Homo sapiens: one gene and its partner. The protein of the gene in region 2 purifies or fractionates together with the protein of the main gene of each other region. This does not show direct contact. Each region holds a gene or a part of one and is shown on either strand. Other genes may lie near its edges.

Region 1 (7,033 bases), on a different chromosome or scaffold from region 2:
TTGCCCAAGGATCTCCAGGCTCTTCCATAATTTCTCCAAAGCCCAGCGCTCTGCATATATCTTCCTAGTTCTTCCTTCAGAAAACCTAAATGATGCAAAATGATACCACAGTGTTGAATGTTTGATTTTAAGGTGGGTGGATTTAATAAGGAAAAGATGTTTTGCGTCTTTTTCATTGATCGCTTAGGCATTCTTGCTTTTTTGATTGATTTTTAACCTGGGTGGAGGGGTTTGAGGAGCTGTTTGAGAATGTGATGAAGGTCTTGGACCATATCTCTAGAAAAATGTACATACACAATACACAAACACAGGCACACAGACCCCCCCAACACAGACACACACACACACACACACACACACAGACAGACACAGACACACACACACAGACACACACACACACACAGTTCTACACATGATTTCAGGTGGGGAGGTCTCCCACCCTGTCCTCATAGATGCATTGGGCTTCCATGGACTTCATCTCTCCATTGCCTTGCTGTGATAAGTTGCACCTTCATAATGGAAACTCACTCTGATTCAGAACCAGCTGAACACTGGTTGCTGAGAACAATGCGTAGAAGGGTTGACTGCACAGGCCACTTCGTTTGATGGTTTGCATGTGGCATTCTGGAAGGAGCATGGCTCTGCCATTGGAGAGTTCTGATACAGAACCCAGGATCTGGTTTTGGAATAAATAACTTCTCCAAGCTTAGGTTTCCTCCTTTGTGCAATGGGTCTGACGGTCTGCCCTGGCAGGTGTGAGGTGATGATGTGGCAGGACGTGCACAGCAGGCTGGCACAGGGCCGTCCTCTCGTGTGTTCCCTGAGGGAACCCAATTCTGCGTGGCCTGTAGGACCTACTGGCTGGGCCTCCTAAGCTGGTTCTTTGTAGCTGCCCTGGCACCAGCACTGACGTGCCCATACCAGAACTGATCATGCCTACACTAGAAGTGACCATGCCCTACCCACAGTAGTACTGACTCTATCCACGCATTACTGACCCCTGCCCATACCAGTATTGACCCCACCCACACCAGCACAAACCATGCCCACACCGTCACTGACCCTGCCTGTACCAGCACGTTCCTAGGGGCCGGTTCAGGGATAGGATAAGGAGTAGTATTTGGGAGGGAGGAGCTTGCTTTGTTAGTGAGACATATTACAAAAATAACTAATGAGACCTTAAAATGCTTTTTACATTTTCTCCAGATGTCTTTCTGTTGGTCTTGAGGCACCCTGCTTACATTGCAGCCACTGCGGCTGTTTTCATGCAGTGCAAAAAGCCTCTATTTGTTTAAAGTCTGTTTACCCTGATGCTGTTGACAGGCCCAGTTGGTCCTCCTGCTTCACTGTCAGTGGAATTTGCTCAATAGATATTAAAAGGAAAAAATCAGTTTTCTGTATTTGTCTTCCCAGTGGTACAGTGCTTGAGCAAAACTCCAAAGACTAAATATGTTTGAGATGCTGGCAGACTCGTATCTGGCTTTAAGGTGTGTGACCTCAAGACTCGAAGTCTCAGGGTAGTTTTTTAGATGGAACATTTATTGGCAATTCAACTTTCCTCTTTAATTTGTAACTATAAAGATGTTCTCTAATTGAAATTTATCATTCTTTCAAATGACTCTGTTTCCTTTTTCATATTGTTAAAAAAGCCTGTTTCCATCGGCTTGTTAATTACAGGAATATAATCCTAACGGGTAAGAGGCACCTATGGTTAATTTTCTGCCCTTAGACCTGCGTGTTTTGTTAACAAGAAAGCCAGAACCTACTGCCAGATCACAACTCTTGATCTCTTTTGTTACACAGTTGTCTGTGTTCTTTAAATAAAAACTGTGGTAAAAATCATCTTACAATTTTGTTGGATTTGAGGAATCAGAGAGAATATTCCCCAAAATATGTACTGTTTATTTATTTATTTATTTATTTATTTTTAGTATTTATTGATCATTCTTGGGTGTTTCTCCGAGAGGGGGATTTGGCAGGGTCATAGGACAATAGTGGAGGGAAGGTCAGCAGATAAACATGTGAACAAAGGTCTCTGGTTTTCCTAGGCAGAGGACCCTGCGGCCTTCCGCAGTGTTTGTGTCCCTGGGTACTTGAGATTAGGGAGTGGTGGTGACTCTTAAGGAGCATGCTGCCTTCAAGCATCTGTTTAACAAAGCACATCTTGCACCGCCCTTAATCCGTTTAACCCTGAGTGGACACAGCACATGTTTCAGAGAGCACGGGGTTGGGGGTAACGTCATAGATTAACAGCATCCCAAGGCAGAAGAATTTTTCTTAATACAGAACAAAATGGAGTCTCCCATGTCTACTTCTTTCTACACAGACACAGTAACAATCTGATCTCTCTTTCTTTTCCCCACATTTCCCCCTTTTCTATTCGACAAAACCGCCATCGTCATCATGGCCCGTTCTCAATGAGCTGTTGCGTACACCTCCCAGACGGGGTGGCCACCAGGCAGAGGGGCTCCTCACTTCCCAGACGGGGCGGCCGGGCAGAGGCGCCCCCCACCTCCCGAACGGGGTGGCTGCCGGGTGGAGGGGCTCCTCACTTCTCAGATGGGGCGGCCCGTCAGAGACGCTCCTCACCTCCCAGACGGGGTGGCGGCGGGGCAGAGACACTCCTCAGTTCCCAGACGGGGTCGTGGCTGGGCAGAGGCGCTCTTCACATCTCAGACGGGGCGGCAGGGCAGAGGCGCTCCCCAGATCCCAGACGATGGGCGGCCGGGCAGAGACGCTCCTCACTTCTAGACGGGATGACGGCCGGGAAGAGGCGCTCCTCACTTCCCAGACTGGGTGGCCGGGCAGACACGCTCCTCACTTCCCAGACGGGGTGGCGGCCGGGCAGAGGCTGCAATCTCGGCACTTTGGGAGGCCAAGGCAGGTGGCTGGGAGGTGGAGGTTGTAGCGAGCCGAGATCATGCCACTGCACTCCAGCCTGGGCAACACTGAGCACTGGGTGAGCAAGACTCTGTCTGCAATCCCAGCACCTCGGGAGGCTGAGGCTGGCAGATCACTCACGGTCAGGAGCTGGAGACCAGCCGGGCCAACCCGGTGAAACCCCGTCTCCATCAAAAAATACGAAAACCAGTCAGGTGTGGCGGCGCGCGCCTGCAATCCCAGGCACTCCGCAGGCTGAGGCAGGAGAATCAGGCAGGGAGGCTGCAGTGAGCCGAGATGGCGGCAGTACAGTCCAGCCTTGGCTCGGCATCAGAGGCAGACCGTGGAGAGAGAGGGAGAGGGAGACCGTGGAGAGGGAGAGGGAGACCGTGGAGAGGGAGAGGGAGAGGGAGAATGTACTGTTATAGACTGGACAGATTTATTAGCCAGATGTTGCTTGTGTTTTTAGTTGGTGACTACATTTAGCCATCTGGCCAGGAAGTTGCTTAACCTTATTGTAGATAACGTCCATATGTTTGGTGTTCACATACAATAGAACATCTGTATTGAAAATCTTCCTGTGGCCTCATGTAAGGACTCGAAGTAGAAGGGGAGACATGCAGGGATCCCTATTGGGGTCAGTGGGGAGTAAAAAGGTGGTGGATAGATCTCTCCTCCAAGTTTTCTTCCCTCTCTCCTTCCTCAACTCTCTGATGATGTCACAACTGCCAGCTATGTGTTTGGGTTGATGGATGTATATGTGATTGCATATATATGTGAATGTGTGTGTGTGTGTACATATGTAGTATGCCTTAGGTGGGGTGCAGTGGCTCACGCCTGTAATCCCAGCACTTTGGGAGGCTGAGGTGGGCAGATCACCTGAGGTCAGGAGTTGAGACCAGCCTGGCTAACATGGCAAAACCTCATCTCTACTAAAAATACAAAAATTAGCCGGGTGTGGTGGCACACACCTGTAACCCCAGCTACTCGGGAGGCTGAGGCAGGAGAATTGCTTGAACCCGGGAGATGGAGGTTGCAGTGAGCCGAGATCGCACCACTGCACTCCAGTATGGGCAACAAGAACGAGACTGTCTCAAAAAAAAAAAAAAAAAAAAAAAAAGTATGCCTTAAAACTTTTCATATTTTACATAATAATTAGTAATACATACTTCACTTGGGCCTTGTAGATCTGTAAAACTTCTCCTTGCAAGACAAAGCCACTGTTGATTGCAATGGAAATAAAAATTGAGGATTTTTTTTTTTTTTTTTTTTTTTACTTCTCCCAAGATGACACATTTTAAGCTAAAGAAAGCAGCCTCCAAGAATTTTATATTCCTAATATTTTGGGCAAGCCCGAGTTTCTAGGTTGTTTTTACCTGCCCAGTTGCTGTGGTGGAAGTTGTGCTAGAAAATTCAGCCTCCTTGGTCTATGTCTGTGAACTTACTAAATTCTTGTTGTTCTAGAATTCTAGATTTGGACCTGGTGGTTAGAGATGAAGATGGGAATATTTTGGATCCAGAATTAACTAGCACGATTAGTCTCTTCAGAGCTCATGAAATAGCTTCTAAACAAGTGGAGGAAAGGTTACAAGAGGAAAAAGTAAGTTTGACTCTGTCATATGCCATTCACGTTTTCTCAGTAATAAGTTTTCAACATTAGTAAAGTATCAGTCAAGCCCAAAATTGTCACTAAGAAAGAACCTGAAAAGGAGTAGCTGCAGAGTTTGTGTCCTACAGTCATGAGTGGAATGGAGCCTGGTGGCACAGGATGTCACCCATGACATGAAAGGGGGTCGGACAGCATTGTGTTTCATCGTAGGAGACAGGATCCTAATGATGTTGATTTTGTGTTCTCATCTGTCAAATGAGACACAAGACTTGATTCTGCATTTCCTCTCGGATAATGGTAGGCAGGTCATGTATTCCAAGCTCATTGAGGGCAGAGAGTACATGTCTTATTGTCTTTTCGTCTTCTATGATCTTTAATGGTATCATGTATGCATTAGCCTGTTCTCGCCTTACTATAAAGAAGTGCCTGAGACTGGGTAATTTATAAAGAAAAGAGGTTTAATTGGTTCATGGTTCTGCAGACTGTATAGGAAGGATAGTGGCTTCTGCTTCTGGGGAGGCCTCAGGAATCTTATAATTATGGTGGAAGGCGAAGTGGGAGCCAACACTTCACATGGCTAGAGCAGGAGGAAGAGAGAGGGTGTGCGGGGGGGTGCTACACGCTACACTTTTAAACGACGAGATCTTGTGAGAGCTCACCATCATGAGGACAGCACTGAGAGGATGGTGCTAAACCATTCATGAAAAATCCACCCCATGATCCAGTCACCTCCCACCAGTATATATATATACACACACACACAGTAGATACTCAGAAATTGACTAATTGAATCATCTGTTAATTCAACAAGTACTTACTGAGCATCTACTGTGTACCAAATGTTGAAGACATAATGATACATGAGACAGATGTCCTTGGAGGGTTTAGTCTAATGAGGGAACAAAAAATTAAATAACTACACATATATAATCATTATTTTGATTTATTGGATGGACACCTGAAAGTTTTGTATCTCTGAAAATACTCAGCACAGCAGTTGCACAGGATACAATTTTTTGTCTGTTGTGTGAATGCATGATTTAAGAATGTGCAGGGGAGATAAGAAAGTGACTGCACCAAGGCCTTTGCTGGGTTATGCCAATGAGTTATTACAATTTTCTATTCTGTAGGGAATAAAGAAAGCAAGTGTCAGTGATGAGTGTTGCTGGGGTTGACTTTCTGTTTCCTTCCATACACAGTCTCAAAAGCAGAACATAGATATTAACAGACAAGCCAAGTTTGCTGCAACCCCTTCTCTGGCCTTGTTTGTGAACCTCAAAAATGTGGTTTGTAAAATAGGAGAAGATGCTGAAGTCCTCATGTCTCTATATGACCCTGTGGAGTCCAAATTCATCAGGTGGGTGACATTTCTTGGCTGCCGTCTTTCCTCTTTGGTTAGTGTTAGGAACTTGGGATCAGAACCACTGAAGCGTCCCATTCATGCTGAGAGGCCTTGGATGAATGGCTGCTGGACACGAGCAAGCAGCCGAGTCAAGAGCTGTCTTAGACAGTGTGATGGCAGCCAGGTTGGGCTCTGGGTCAGGGTGAACCTTCTTGCGTGTAGATTGCTATTTGCTCGTAGAGTTATAGCAGTTGCAGGTACACTCTGGCCGTATCTTAAGAGTGTAGCTGAAGATTGAAGTAATACTTTGTTTCCTAAGTTGTCTTCGTAAGATTTTATATATCCTGGTCCCTCAAATATCACTATTTCCATTTTTCAAAATTTGGTTTCTATGAATGCCATTTCTGTGAGTTTTGTCTTGTTTTTTCTGCAAGATGATTGGCTGGAATACATCATTTAGAATGGTGCCTGCCACATACAGACTGTCAGTTAATATTTGTTAAATGAAAACACTGTAAGTCTATTTTTTCCTGCTTAGCCTTCAGTATAACTTTCTCTTTGCCCAGATGGAAACAATGTGGTTCAACTATGTATGAATTATGTGTGTGTCTGTGTATATGTTAAAACTCTAGTATCTTCACTTGTATTATTCAAAATTTGAAAACTTAGTGTATGAATGATACAGAAAAATACGAGTGGATTTTATTCTCACTTCTGATAAAGACTTTGTTTCCTCTTGACATAGGATGCAGTTTTTATTTTACAATGTATTTGGTTTGTCATAGGTTTTGAAATAAACATGCATTGTGCTGAATTTTATAGTATTGTCATTCTAAATGAACAAATAGGCTCTTAAAAAAAAAACCAACTTAGAAATACCATTTGCAAGTAGTTCTATTACAGTGACAACCCAAGACATTGCACATTAAAACTTGGCAAGGTTTTTGTGCTGTGGATGTTAATTGATGAGTAGCTGTATGTGATACTTTTGATATTTATAAACTCAATAGTTGTCTGTATAGTGCACGTACATGGTATTAATTATGAAGCAATGTGGATGTACATTTGGTACCCTGTTATTTGGAAAATTAACTTGCTTTTATTTCTCCATTTTTCAAGTGAGAACTACCTGGTTCGCTGGTCCAGTTCAGGATTACCTAAAGACATAGACAGATTACATAATTTGCGAGCCGTGTTTACTG
Region 2 (7,033 bases):
GAGCTTGGAGCCCTGGGATGGCCCTCCCAGCATTCGTTGGGCTTCCCCGTCTCTGATATTTGTCAGGCCCCTCACCCCGTGTCTGGCCTTCCGCCAGCTGTGGGGGCAGGATCAGGCATGTACTCCTTGGTGGCCCCAGCGCTGGCTCTGCACCCGATGCATAGTAGGTGCCTAGCAAGTGCATCTGGAGGCTCGTTCGATGGCCCTGCAGGGCTCTCTGGGTCTGGCGGGAGACATTGGGAGTCAAGGTCAGTGCCTCACACCATCTCCTCGGCAGCATGTGTCTTTCTACCGTTTGCCGTGGCCCTTCCCATGGCCAGTGACTAACAGCTTTCACGCACACTCTGGGGTGGGCTGAAAGGCCCCGGAAGCAGCCCTCTTTCCCTGGAAGATGGGAGATGAATGACAGCACCCTAGCTTCCTGCCTTCTCTGGGGACGCCCTGAGCACGGTCCGTTCTGTCTCCCAGGTGGCCCCAGCAGGACTGAGAGCAGCAGCAGTCCACAGCCATGACAACTCAACCACCTGCCCTGTGTCAGCTGCTGTCCCCTCCTTTATTCCTCCCCACTCCCCTTCTGCAGCATCCTGGAGTCACTTCCCGAATAAACCCCTCACATCACCTCCTTGTCTCAGGGTTTGCTTCTGGGGGGACCCAGCCTGAGACGGGATGAACATTCATTCGACAAAATATTGCGGCTGGGCGCAGTGGCTCACGCCTGTAATCCTAGCACTTTGAGAGGCCGAGGCGGGCGGATCACTTAAGTTCAGGGGTTCGAGACCAGCCTGGTCAACATGGTGAAACCCTGTTTCTACTAAAAATACAAAAATTAGCTGGGCGTGGTGGTGCATGCCTGTAATCCCAGCTACTTGGGAGGCCGAGGCAGGAGAATCACTTGAACCCAGGGGGCAGAGTTTGCAGTGGGCCGAGATGGTGCCACTGCACTCCAGCCTGGGCGACAGAGCGTGATTCCATTTCAAAAAACAAACAAACAAACAAAAAACAACAAAAAGCAAACATTGAGTGGCAGCATAGGGAGAGAGGTAAGTTTATTCTCATCAAGACTGGGAGGAAAAGTTACACAGCCTCAATTACCTTTCCAAAGGACAGGTACGGGTAGGAAAAGGATTAAGAGACAATCTTTTTTTCTTCTTGTTAACTTGTATTACATTTTTAAAAAATATAATGAATCAGTAATGAAACAAATAAAGAAACCCAATTGCAAATGCTGTGTGACTTTGGGCCAGTCGCAGACTGTCTCTAGGTCTCAGCCTCCGAGGAATGACATGGAGCTGGACCACAATTCCCAGGTTCTGGGGTTTGAGATTGACCTTACCTCCGCCTTGCCTGCTCCCCACAGGTTTGACAACTATTCAGCCAATGTGATGGTGGACAGCAAGCCAGTGAACCTGGGGCTGTGGGACACTGCTGGGCAGGAGGACTACGACCGTCTCCGGCCGCTCTCCTATCCACAGACGGTGTGCTGCTCCCACCTGCCTTGCAGTCCTGACCTTTGCTGTCTCTGTTCCCTCTGCTTGGGATGCCCTTCCAGCCAGCTCAGCCTGGGAAACCCTACCTCTCCCCTTAAGGCCCAGCTCAGGGAGTCTGCCTGCCTTGCATGTCCCAGGCAGAGAAGGGCTTCCTCTTGCACTCCCTCAGCCCTGCATTGGTTCCCGGTCCTCAATGTGCCCATCTTCCCACCCCATTGCCTCCTGGGCTCTGGCACCCCCTGTTTCCAGTGGTGGGGCAGGTGGATTCTGCACAGGGCCCCAGGAGGCAGCCCAGCATGGTGAGCCCTGGGAGTGCTGGGGGAGGGGAGAGGTGGAGGATGCCTGCAGGTGGCTGCTGGGTCCTCGCCCTTCCTCCAGGGTATGCAGGGAGGCGGCTAAGGCCGGTAATCAGATGGTGGATAGTATATGGATTGGAGTATGGACTCTAGAATCCCAGATCCTCCCCTCACCAGAGTGCACGTTGGCAAACTCTTTAACCTCTGGAAGCCTCACTTTCCCTGTCTGAGGAATGGGGCTACCAGCAGTGCTTGCTGCAGAGTGACATGTGAGGATAACCACTTCGCAGAGGCCCTGGCCTTTAGTGAGCGTCCTAACAAACAGCAGCCTCGTGGTAGAGGCGAGAAGGGTATCTCTGCTCTGCCCAGATCCTAAGTCCCCAGCATTCCCTGGGGTGTTCCACCCTCAGGGAGCCCCAAGCTCCACCTCTCGGTGGCTGCCATGGTGGGACACCTCTGGGCCCTCCTCACTAGCAACCTCGCTTGCTCTGTCCCCAGGACGTCTTCCTCATCTGCTTCTCCCTCGTCAGCCCAGCCTCTTATGAGAACGTCCGCGCCAAGGTGAGCTGGACAGGGTGGGCCTTGGGGGCTCTGGGGCAGGTAACCCTGAGGGACAGAGGGAGGAACTGGTGACTCTAGGCTGGTCCCTGGGGCAGCAGAGGTCGCATACAGAGAGGGTCCCCAGTGCCAACCAGGGCTGGCAGAGGGACTTGAGGGGGTAAGATTCAGAGGACCTGGGGTGGGGGGTGCTGCGATAGTTAGCTATACCCCCACTTTCCATGGCTGCATTCTCCTCCTCCCCACACAACCTCATGTCCGCCTCCGATTGTCACATAACCTCATGTTTGCTTCTTATGTCTGCACAAAACCTCGCCTCCTCCTTTCCTACAATCATGCGCCCCCTCCTTCCTGCACAACGTCGTGGCCTCCCCTCCCTGTGCCACCTCACGTCTCTCTCTCCTCACCGTCGTGCCCACCTCTGATCTTCTGGCAACTTGCTGCCTCTCCTCTCCCTACACCCTCACACTCCCTCTGATCCCCGCACAGCCTCGCGCCCCCTCTTGACCCATACAACCTTGTGTCCCCCCACCCACCTGCCCAGTGGTTCCCAGAAGTGCGGCACCACTGCCCCAGCACACCCATCATCCTGGTGGGCACCAAGCTGGACCTGCGGGACGACAAGGACACCATCGAGAAACTGAAGGAGAAGAAGCTGGCTCCCATCACCTACCCGCAGGGCCTGGCACTGGCCAAGGAGATTGGTATGGGCCTCGGGCTCAGAGGGGCGATCTGGCTGCAGGGGAGGCCCTGACTTGGCCTCGTGGTGTGATTGTAAACACGGGCTGCAGGGCCAGGCTGTGCAGTTTGAACTCAGCTGTGCTGTGCACTTGCTGTGTGACCTTGGGCGAGTCACGTAGCCTCTCTCTGCCTGTGTTTCCTTATCAGAAAAGCATGGGATAGTGATAGCTCCTGCCTCCTGGGGTGGTTGGGGGAATTCAGTAACTTATTCCAGGTGGAGCTGCCAGGGCAGCACCTGTGTGTGAGAAGCACTCTGTGTTAGTAGTAGTCGTCCTAGTAGTATGAGTAGTATCTATTAATAGATACTGAAAATAAGGAGGTGTGCTTTGAGCAGACAGAAGCAGAGATTGAGTGGGGGTGCTGTGGTTGCTTGGAGGACAAGTGGCAAGTCAAACTTGGGTGTTCTGGGAAGGCTTCCTGGAGGAGGTGGCGCTGCATTAGATCTAAAGGGTGACACATTTCCTTCCACCACCTTCTCTCCTCCCTTTCCCCACTCCCTTTGGTTTCTCAGCTCGACCCCTCTTTGCCTCCAAATCACTGGGCTGGAGAAATATAGTAACTTCTCAAGGTCACCCAGCTAGTAGGTGGCCCAGCCAGATTTGAAGGAAGGACAGCAAATTATTGGCTCACTGCTGGGGGGTGCTTCTTTGTAGTGGCTCAGGGCTGCCTGCATCAGGGAGGCGATGACCATGGGTCTGGCTTCATGCATGGTACCCAGGCCTGCTGGCTGTTCCTGTCCCTGTCCCTGGTAGGTCCCAATGTGTCTGTAGCTCAGGGATCCTTGCCCAAAAGCCCAAAACCACCAGCTGGGTTTGGTCATATGAGCTGTGCCCTCTGCCTCACCACAGGACTCTGCAGGCCCAGGGTTTGGCCCCCAAATTGAATCCACTAGACCTCCTCCCGCCCCACCGCCCCAGCCCCGCCCCACCTCCCCCTGCCGGAACTGGGAGGGCCCTGGGGACTCACATCTCTTCACAGGAAGAGAAACCGCAGCCACCACCTCCCTCCTTCTGTGACTAGCGTGGTGACACAGCCATCTTCCCCGGGGGCCTCAGACTATGGCTCACACCCTGGCTCCCTTCCCCTGTCCTAGGGCCACAGCTCCCCAGCCTGCAAGTCTTTCCTTTTAAATATCAAGGATTCATCCCTGCCTTCTCTTTCTGACCAACCAGCACCCCTCCAACCCCTGCCCCTGGACTCCTTCTATTCAGGGTGCAGCTCTCCAGCCTGTGGCCTGGCTGTCACTGACCTCTCCCTTGTAAAGCACATGCTTTGGGATCATGTGGAGGGTGCTGGAGGCCTGGATTCTGGTCCTGGCTCTGATACTGATTGGCTGTGTGACCTTGGGTTAGTGGCTGCCCCTCTCTGGGCCTCAGTCTCCCTCTCCACATAAGCTGACCTGGACAATCCCCAAAGGCCCTCTCTCCTCCATAAGGTGGTGACTCAGAGTTCTTGCCTTGGCCTCTAGCCAGTCTTTCCTGGCTGACCCTGCATGGAGCTGGGGCAGGGGCAGTGATTTTAACTGTGCCTCAGACCAGCTTAGGCCTAGGGGGAGTCCTGGGGGGACTGGCAGGGATAGTGAGGGAAGCAGCAACTGCCTCTGCCCACCTGGACTCCCCAGCCCTGGGATGACAAGTTTTGGGGGCAGCCCTGAGCCCAGCTGATAATCACAGCTGATGTGGACTGAGCACTTCCTGGGAGCCACTTCATTCTCACAGCAGCTATGACGAAGAGCTCTTGTCACCTTCACTTTACAGAGAGGAAACAGGCTCGGGGGGACATGTTGCTGGCTTAAGGCCACCCAGCCAGGATTCTGACAGGGGTGGACTGGCTCCCTAAGCCACAAAGCTGAGGGCCATCTGTCCTCCCTGCACCTCCACTGCCCCCACCGCCCCCTCACCCTCCTTGCCCTCTCTGTAGCTCCCCTGCCCCCTGCCTCAGCTTGATGAGCCATCGCATGGCAATGAGTCCTAGACAGATGGGAGACTGAGGCCCGGAGAGGGGGAACTGACTAAAGTCCTAGAGCAGTGAGAGGCCGAGCCAAAGTGAGCCCTGGCCCCCCAGCTCAGGACCCTTGTCCTGGGTGAGTGGGTGGCTGGGTGCCAGGGAAAAGGCAGTTGGTGGATGTGGGGGAAGTGGACGCAGATGTGGTCCCTTATAAGGAGACAGTGGCCAAGTGCCCAGTGACACCTCCTCAACACAGGGGGCTGTGGTGACCAGACTCCGGGCTGAGCTCAGGGCACCCTGCTCTTGCCAGCCAAGCCCCATGACAACCACTGCCCATGATCCCTGGTGGGCGTATATGCCTCCAGGTAGAGGGGAGACGCCCAGCATGTGACTCAGAGCGAGTGACATCCTCTCTGAGCCTCAGGCTCCTCGTCCCTGCCCCACCCTTCCTTTCTCCCCAGCACCTGGCCTCAGTGGGCTCCCCTGTTCCAGGGGCTGCCCCTCCTGCCATCCCGACTTCTCCCCCCAGCTCTGTGCCTTCGGGCCTTGGCTTCCCCACTCTGGGCCTGTTTCCTGGTCTGTGAAATGGGAACTCACCCCGGTGTTGTTGGAAGCACCCAGCTCAGTGCCTGGCACAGGGTAGGTGGTGACCAGCGTCCATCCCCTTCCATCCTGCCACAGAGAAGCAAGCGGGCTTTGGCGGAGGGCCCAGAGTTCCCCTCCCCTCCCTTCTCCTTCCTCTTGGTTCTGACATCGGCCCCCAGGCCTGCATAGCATCTCGGCAGAAGGGGTTTTGTGGTTTTTCACTTCAGGGAAACTGTGCAGCTTGAAATGGACATGGGAAGTCACACGGACTCTTTGCAGAATGTCATGGAACGCCGTCCCTGGGGGTGGGAACTAGGCCTGCCTTTCTCCTCATCTGTGCCCCGGGCTCTAGCCCTGAGGGGTCTTCATGTGGGAGAAGGCTGGGCCTCCCATGGCAGGACAGAGGAGCTCTCCAATGCCACTCCTCCCAGAAGGCCCCCAGCTGGGCCCAGGTTGAGGGAATACATCCAGCGTGTGAGTTTGGATGAGTCGCATACTCTCCAGGAGCCTCAGTTTCCTTGTCTGTAAGACAGGGACGGTGCTAAGGAAGGGGCTGATGATGTTGGGAAGTTCCTGGGGAGGGGGCCCTGAGGGCTTCAGGCCTCCTGGGGATTATTTGCAACCCTGGGAGAATCCTGGAGGGATGGGCAAGACAATTTTCTAGAAGGTGAGGCTCCCAGAGATTTGGTCACTGATGCTTGAGCCCTTTCCTTCACAGAAAAGCATCAAAATTCCCGCCCTCCTTCCACGGACTAAGGGCTATGTGTCCAAGAAAGACACAGACCTGCCCTGGAGGCCTTAGTCTCTCACTGAGTTCACGCTCGCTATTACAGACATGAGGAAACTGAGGCACGGTGACGTTAAACTCCTTGCTCCTGGTGACACAGCCTCCAGGTGACCCCACTGGGACTGGATGGCGGCCCCCAGAGCCTGGTGTTCAGTTGTATGGCTTGGGAGGGGGTGTACGGCATGGAGGGGTGTATGGCGTGGGAGGGGGTGTATGGGGTGGGAGGGGTTGTATGGCATAGGAGGGGTGTATGGCGTGGGAGGGGTGTATGGTGTGGGAGGCGTGGGAGGGGTATATGGCGTGGGAGGCATGGGAAGGGGTGTATGGCGTGGGAGGGGGTGTATGGCGTGGGAGGGGTGTATGGCATGGGAGGCGTGGGAGGGATGTATGGCGTGGGAGGGGGTGTATGGCGTGGGAGGGCTTGTATGGCATGGGAGGCATGGGAGGAGTGTATGGTGTGGGAGGGGTGTATGGCGTGGGAGGGGTGTATGGCGTGGGAGGGTGTATGGCGTGGGAGGGGTATATGGCGTGGGAGGGGTGTATGGCGTGGGAGGGGTGTATGGCGTGGGAGGCGTGGGAGGGGTGTATGGCATGGGAGGGTGTATGGCGTGGGAGGGGTGTATGGCGTGGGA

The links. The genes of interacting proteins can lie anywhere in the genome.
Region 1: the proteins of RAC2 (region 2) and DOCK1 purify together in Homo sapiens (affinity purification with mass spectrometry; 2 studies listed by BioGRID and IntAct, with this or other methods). This does not show direct contact.

Annotation. Positions count from the first base shown.
Region 1 is NC_000010.11:126,992,404-126,999,436, forward strand, and holds part of DOCK1 (dedicator of cytokinesis protein 1), read left to right. Parts: intron 1-4,344; coding exon 4,345-4,480; intron 4,481-5,688; coding exon 5,689-5,846; intron 5,847-6,950; coding exon 6,951-7,032; intron 7,033-7,033. UniProt on the Homo sapiens protein: Involved in cytoskeletal rearrangements required for phagocytosis of apoptotic cells and cell motility. Along with DOCK1, mediates CRK/CRKL regulation of epithelial and endothelial cell spreading and migration on type IV collagen.
Region 2 is NC_000022.11:37,227,243-37,234,275, reverse strand, and holds part of RAC2 (ras-related C3 botulinum toxin substrate 2), read left to right. Parts: intron 1-1,357; coding exon 1,358-1,475; intron 1,476-2,281; coding exon 2,282-2,344; intron 2,345-2,885; coding exon 2,886-3,045; intron 3,046-6,332; coding exon of another isoform or gene 6,333-6,370; exon of another isoform or gene 6,371-6,537; intron 6,538-7,033. UniProt on the Homo sapiens protein: Plasma membrane-associated small GTPase which cycles between an active GTP-bound and inactive GDP-bound state.